Linked DNA regions of Homo sapiens: region 1 is linked to region 2. Evidence: fine-mapped expression QTL. A gene starts in region 2. The other region holds a variant in brackets. All regions are shown on one strand. Distances are from middle to middle. Region 1 overlaps ARHGEF3 (Rho guanine nucleotide exchange factor 3). Region 2 holds the start of ARHGEF3 (Rho guanine nucleotide exchange factor 3).

The links. PIP is the estimated chance that this variant, and not a neighbour inherited with it, causes the effect.
Region 1: its variant is the best candidate, but not a certain one, in a credible set for the expression of ARHGEF3 in whole blood (INTERVAL, PIP 0.89).

The regions. Positions count from the first base shown.
Region 1 is chr3:56,766,229-56,769,139 of GRCh38, forward strand. All of the region lies in intron 2 of ARHGEF3 (Rho guanine nucleotide exchange factor 3), which reads right to left. Among named protein-coding and RNA genes, the nearest start is that of ARHGEF3, 34 kb to the right of the region's middle. The variant G/A (reference allele first, on the strand shown) is at 1,213.
Region 2 is chr3:56,800,424-56,803,334 of GRCh38, forward strand. It overlaps ARHGEF3 (Rho guanine nucleotide exchange factor 3), which reads right to left and starts at 1,526. Exons shown (of 10, transcript NM_019555.3): 1 at 1,280-1,526. The coding sequence starts at 1,375. RefSeq lists a silencer at 1,526-1,695.

The DNA of each region.
Region 1 (2,911 bases), 34 kb before region 2:
ACAGTAGATCCAAATAACATTAATGGAGACCACTAATTTATCATATGTTCATGCTGCATCTGGGTTGAATAAAATAACTCCCTGATCTAAGGGCCAGAGGATGGAGCAATGAGAGGCAGTGGTTGCTAGAAACCCTTCTTTGCCATAGCAATACTTCCTGGAGGGGCTACAACTGGGGGAGGGGACACATATTCTCCTTCAGCCCAGTTGAAGAAGATGGGCAGGGCCCCATCACTGGCAGCCACTGCCAGGCTCTGCAGAGAGCTTAGGAGCAGCAATGGCTGCCTTTTCTAGTCATAACGGTGATAATAATAGCAAGTACTAATTTTTGAGCACATCCTAAGTAATGTGTAGTATTAGGCACTGTGGATACAGAGATAAGTAAGACACCACCTTGGCTTGCATGGAAAACCCAAGGGACCCCTGGGAAGAGCTATCTTGAGGGATATCACAGCAAAGAGAAAAACTGTAGCAAAAGAGAAGGAGAAATGTAAGAAGTCTAGATTTAGATGTGAAAACAGAGAAGCAATTCTATCCAAAACTGACACACATCAAGAACAGAAGCCTTGCCGTATCAACGGCCTTTAGTATTCACACCCTTTGACCAGAATTCCATTTCTAGGAGTATAATCAAAGGAAAGAAAGAAATACAGACATACACATGATCAGGATGTTGAAAGCACTGTTATCTATAATGATGAAAAAACAGAAACAAATGTTCAACAACAGGAGAGTGATTAACTCAACTGTACATTCTTTTGATGAAATGCTTTATGAGTCCATTAAGAATCAGGTCTGTGGCGAGGTGTGGTAGCTCATGCCTATAATCCCAGCACTTTGGGAGGCCAGGGTGGTAGGACTGCTTGAGGCCAGGAGTTTGAGACCAGTCTGGGCAACATAGGGAGATTTTTGTCTCTATTAAAAAAAAAAAAAAATCAAGTCTTTGAAAACTACTTAACGACATGAAAAATACTCTTCTATTGTAGAGTTATTTTATACCGTTAAGACCAAAGGGAGTAAAAAAATAGCATATACAGTGTGATAGTCATTTTGTTTTAAAAAATGCACATGCGGCCGGGCGCGGTGGCTCACGCCTGTAATCCCAGCACTTTGGGAGGCTGAGGCGGGCAGATCATGAGGTCAGGAGATTGAGGCCATCCTGGCTAACATGGTGAAACCCCGTCTCTACTAAAAAATATTAAAAAATTAGCC[G/A]GGCGTGGTGGCGGGCGCCTATAGTCCCAGCTACTGGGGAGGCCGAGACAGGAGAATGGCTTGAACCCGGGAGGCAGAGCTTGCAGTGAGCTGAGATTGCGCCACTGCACTCCAGCCTGGGCAACAAAGCGAGACTCCGTCTCAAAAAAAAAAAAAAAAAAAAAAAATGCACATGCAAGTATAGTAAAAGGTAAGATTGCCTGAGTATGTACCAAAATATTAATGGAAGTTTTTTGGTGATGGGAAGTAGGATTACAAGTGACTTTTATTCTCTTTTATGTGCTTCACTATATTTTTCAGTATTTATTTATTTATTTATTTATTTTGAGACAGTCTCACTCTGTTGCCTAGGCTGGAGTGCAGTGGCATGATCTCAGCTCACTGCAACCTCCACCTCCTGGGTTCAAGTGATCCTCCCACCTCAGCCTCCCAAGTAGCTGGGACAACAGGTATGCACCACTACGCCCAGCTAATTTTCGTGTTTTTTGGTAGAGACGGGGTTTCACCATGTTGGCCAGGCTGGTCTCAAACTCCTGACCTCAAGCGATCCACCTGCCCCGGCTTCCCAAAGTGCTGGGATTACATGCGTGAGCCACCATGCCCAGCCCCAGCCTCAATATATATATATATTTTTGAGACATAGTCTCAGTCTGTCACCCAGGCTGGAGTACAGTGGCGCAATCTCTGCTCGCTGTGACCTCTGCCTTCTGGGTTCAAGCAATTCTGCCTGCCTCAGCCTCCAGAGTAGCTAGGATTACAGGCGTGTGCCACCACGCCCGGCTAATTTTTTGTATTTTTAGTAGAGACAGGGTTTCGCCATGTTGGCCAGGTTGGTCTCGAACTCCTGACCTCTGGTGATCCACCCGCTTCAGCCTCTCAAAGTGCTGAGATTACAGGTGTGAGCCACTACACCCGGCCTCAATATTTAAATGATGTTATATTATCAGAAAACAAAGCACAATAGAAGGTAATTTAAAAAAAAAAGGACAAATGCATTAAAAAGATTCAACATAGAGTTATTTAATATAAAAATATTCACAGCCTAAATATGTGTTAATAGGAGACTGGTTATGTAGAATAATATATACTCAGCCCATAAAGATAATATTTTCCAAGAATAACTGTGACATAATACTCCCCCCTAAGCTAGATAAAAACTCCTTGCCCAGCCAAATAACAAAGGGAGGAGGAAAATAGAGATGGAATAAAACACATTAAGCAAAATGCAAAAAAAAAAAAAAAAGAAGAAGATGACGACAAAATCCAAGGCAAAAAGCGTTAAAGGAAATAAACAGGAATATTTAATCCTAATAAAAGGTGCAACTCCCCCAGGAGGCTGTAATGGTGACAAATATGAACATTTGTGCACCTAACTGCATAGCTTGGAAATGTGTGAGGCTGAGACTGACAGAGATGCAAGAGAAACTGATCATCCACAGTCACTGTGGGAGGCTTTAACCTAAAAGTGAGCAGATCACCCAGACAGAGATAAGGCTGAATAGACTGTGAGGAACCCAAAACTAGGCTCAGAGTACGTGAGCTCTGCACCTATGCCTAGAATAGTGCTAGAGGGAAACTGGTAAACTATTAATGGATTGTTTTGGAGTTGGAAGACTATACATGTTCTTTTTCTCTTTCTCCTTTTCTGCATTTTTCCATAATGAACATTCACTTTTATAATGGAAAAGGAAAAAGTGCA
Region 2 (2,911 bases):
TTTGTGATAATATTCGACTGAGCTGGAGTGTAGGGTTGGGTTTGAGTGAGGGAGAAGTTAGTTTGTGCTCAGCGTATAGAAAGCTGAATACAACCAGAGACTGCTTGGAGTCCTGTCAGCCTGGAGCAGCTCTTGCTAGAGGAAATGAATCTTTGATGGTGTGCTCCCGAATATACATGATTCAGTGAGCCAAGTGCATACAGCTGAGCAGACCCAAGGAAGGCGAGTGGGTGGAACCTCAAGAATGCTGTGACAAGGCCGGATGCACACCTGCCTTCAGCCTTTCCCCAGTGGTGGTGGTGATGTTTGATGTTCGCAGAGTGAGGTGTGGGAGAGTGGAAAGCTCCCAGATACACGCATGAGCGGCAATGACTAGCTGGGTCCTGTGGGTTCCACCGCAGCTTGACCACAGCAAAGCTGTAATCTAGCGAAAGCGACTGTATTCCCTAAGACCCTCAAAGAGAGGGATGCTTTCTCCTCCAGCTGAACCCAACCTTTAAGGCCAGTGAGCTATGTGCCAGAGAAATAACACGCAAGAGGAAAAGGCAGACTAAACATAACCTGGGAGCACTCCTTCACATCGCCCGCAAGGCACAGGAAAGTTCCCAGAAAGAGAAATGTTTCCAATGTTCCAAGGCAGCTTTCCATTGACCCTAAGGACTTTAATTCATTTTCAAGATCCATGTGGGAGACACTCCAATTTACTCATTTAGCCCCAGCCCCCCGGCTGAATGACCCTCACTGGCCACAGGTGATAGGCAGAGGCGCTGTGTCCTGTTTTTGCTGCCAAAGGGCTGCAAGGCCAAGTCTGACAGGTGAGAGGGCTGGTACGTCCCTCTGCTCTCACAACCCAGGCAAAAAAAACTCGCTTAAAGGGTAGCGACACTGGGGCTTGCTGACACTTCCCTGACACTGGGGCTTGCTGACAGTAGGAGAAAGTCCCTCTGAGAGTCCAGACAGAAGATGGACAGTCTGAGAGCCCTGCAAAGGCAAGGAGGCAGTTGCTCCCAGACCGGCAGGTAGAGGGACAGGGAGAGAGGAGGCAGCTAGTGCTTGGTCCACAGAGAAAAAGCGAGAGAAAAGGAGACAGGGTGAGAGATGGCGACGGGGAGACACAAAGAAGACTGTGGGAGAGATGTAGAGAGAGAAAGTGGCACACACGGAGAGTGAGAGATGGAAACAGAGACAGTGACACTGGACGGGCGCCGAGAATGGGAGATGGAGGCAGACGAGACAGGCAGATGACCCATAGAGGTCCAGGTGCAGGGCGCGGCCCTACCTCAGCGTCCTTGGCCGGACCGCTGGCCGGGGGTAGCTCCAGGCTGCAGTTCGCTCTCTTGACCGTGAGGTAGAAGGGGTAATCCTTGGCCACCATGGCGGCTGCCGGGCCTGCCCTTTGGGATGTCACCGCTGACCCTAGGCGACTACAAAACTCCCAGGCAAAAGGGGGCCCCAGCTCCACGATGCCGGGCGGCGGCGGCGACACGGAGACCGACAGCCGGCTTCTAGCCGGGCAGGACTCGACTGGGCTCCGGAGCCGAGTGGGCGGGACCGTGCCAGCCACGCCTTGATGGGTGGGGAGGGGGCGGGCCGCCGGCTCGGCACCGCCCCACGCTGCCGGGAGGGCCCACGTGCCGCAGCGCGGACACCTCCTGGGGCTGCGAGGGGCGTGGGGCGGTCCCGCGGGTGGAGAGGGACCTCTCTCTCCCCGCTGGTATTCGACTCCGGGCGCCCCCGCAGAGCGTGGGCCGCGATTGCGGGGCAGGCAGACCCCATGATAGCTCCTTTCGGGCTCTTTGGCACTCTCCGGGTGAAAGGCTGCTGGTAGAAAGGAGGCTGGGGCGAAACCGGGCAACGGGGAGAAAGGAGGCTGTAGTGACACCTGGAGGCAGGAAGGAGCCTGGGGGGAAAAGCGAGCGTTTTAAAAGCCCACATTAGAAAGGGGTGGTGTTCTCTCTTACCCTGTTCCCAGGCCACTGCACGTTTTTTTTGTTTTGTTTTGTTTTTGTTTGGTTTTTTAAATGAATGTCAGTGGAATATAATCTACAAATGGCAAAATGCACCCATTTTAAGAGTACCGTTTGTTGAGTTCTGACAAATGTAAACACCCGTATAACCACCTCCACAGTCGGTATACGAAACATTTCCACCACCCCCGGAAAATTCCCTCGAGACCTTTCCCACTTTGCACCAACTTTTAAATTTGACTAGCATATTCAGAGGCTGCCTGACACTCGAGGGCAATCTGACAGAGTGTCCTTCAAGTATAAAGCTGTGCATGGATGACCTGGCACTACCACACCTTTCTGGATCCTTTTTGGAGAAACAATGACATTATAAATGCCCAAGAAGGCGATTGATCTTAAGGTTGTTTGCAGCAGCCCTGTCTGGGGCAGTAAAAAATAAAAAATAACTGGAAACAATGGTAATATATCCATCAATAGGGAGTGCTTAAATAAACTTTCTTCACTGTGTAATACCGCTTAGCAGCAGTGAAAAAGGAGATGGGTCTATGGGTGTGGCATGGAAAGATCTCCAATGTATTAGACTCAGTTTAAAAATAATTGCAGACTAAGCATAATACAATACCATTTGTGTTAAAAAAAAATACAAGTTTACCAAAGAATATCATATATTTTCTATAAAGACATATTTGTGGGTAAATAGCATTGAACACTGTCTACAAGAATCCACAGCAAGCTTTTACCAGTTCCCCTGTGGCTGAAGGGAGGCACCTGGGTTTAAAGAATTAAAGATAGTGAACAAAAGGGACTTAAGCTTATAGCTCATGTTTTAAAATTTTTTATAAGAAAAATACAGCCTGGGCAGCAGTGAAACCCTGTGTCTACAAAAAAAATACAAAAAATTAGCCAGGGATGGTGGTGCACACCTGTAATCCCAACTACTCCAG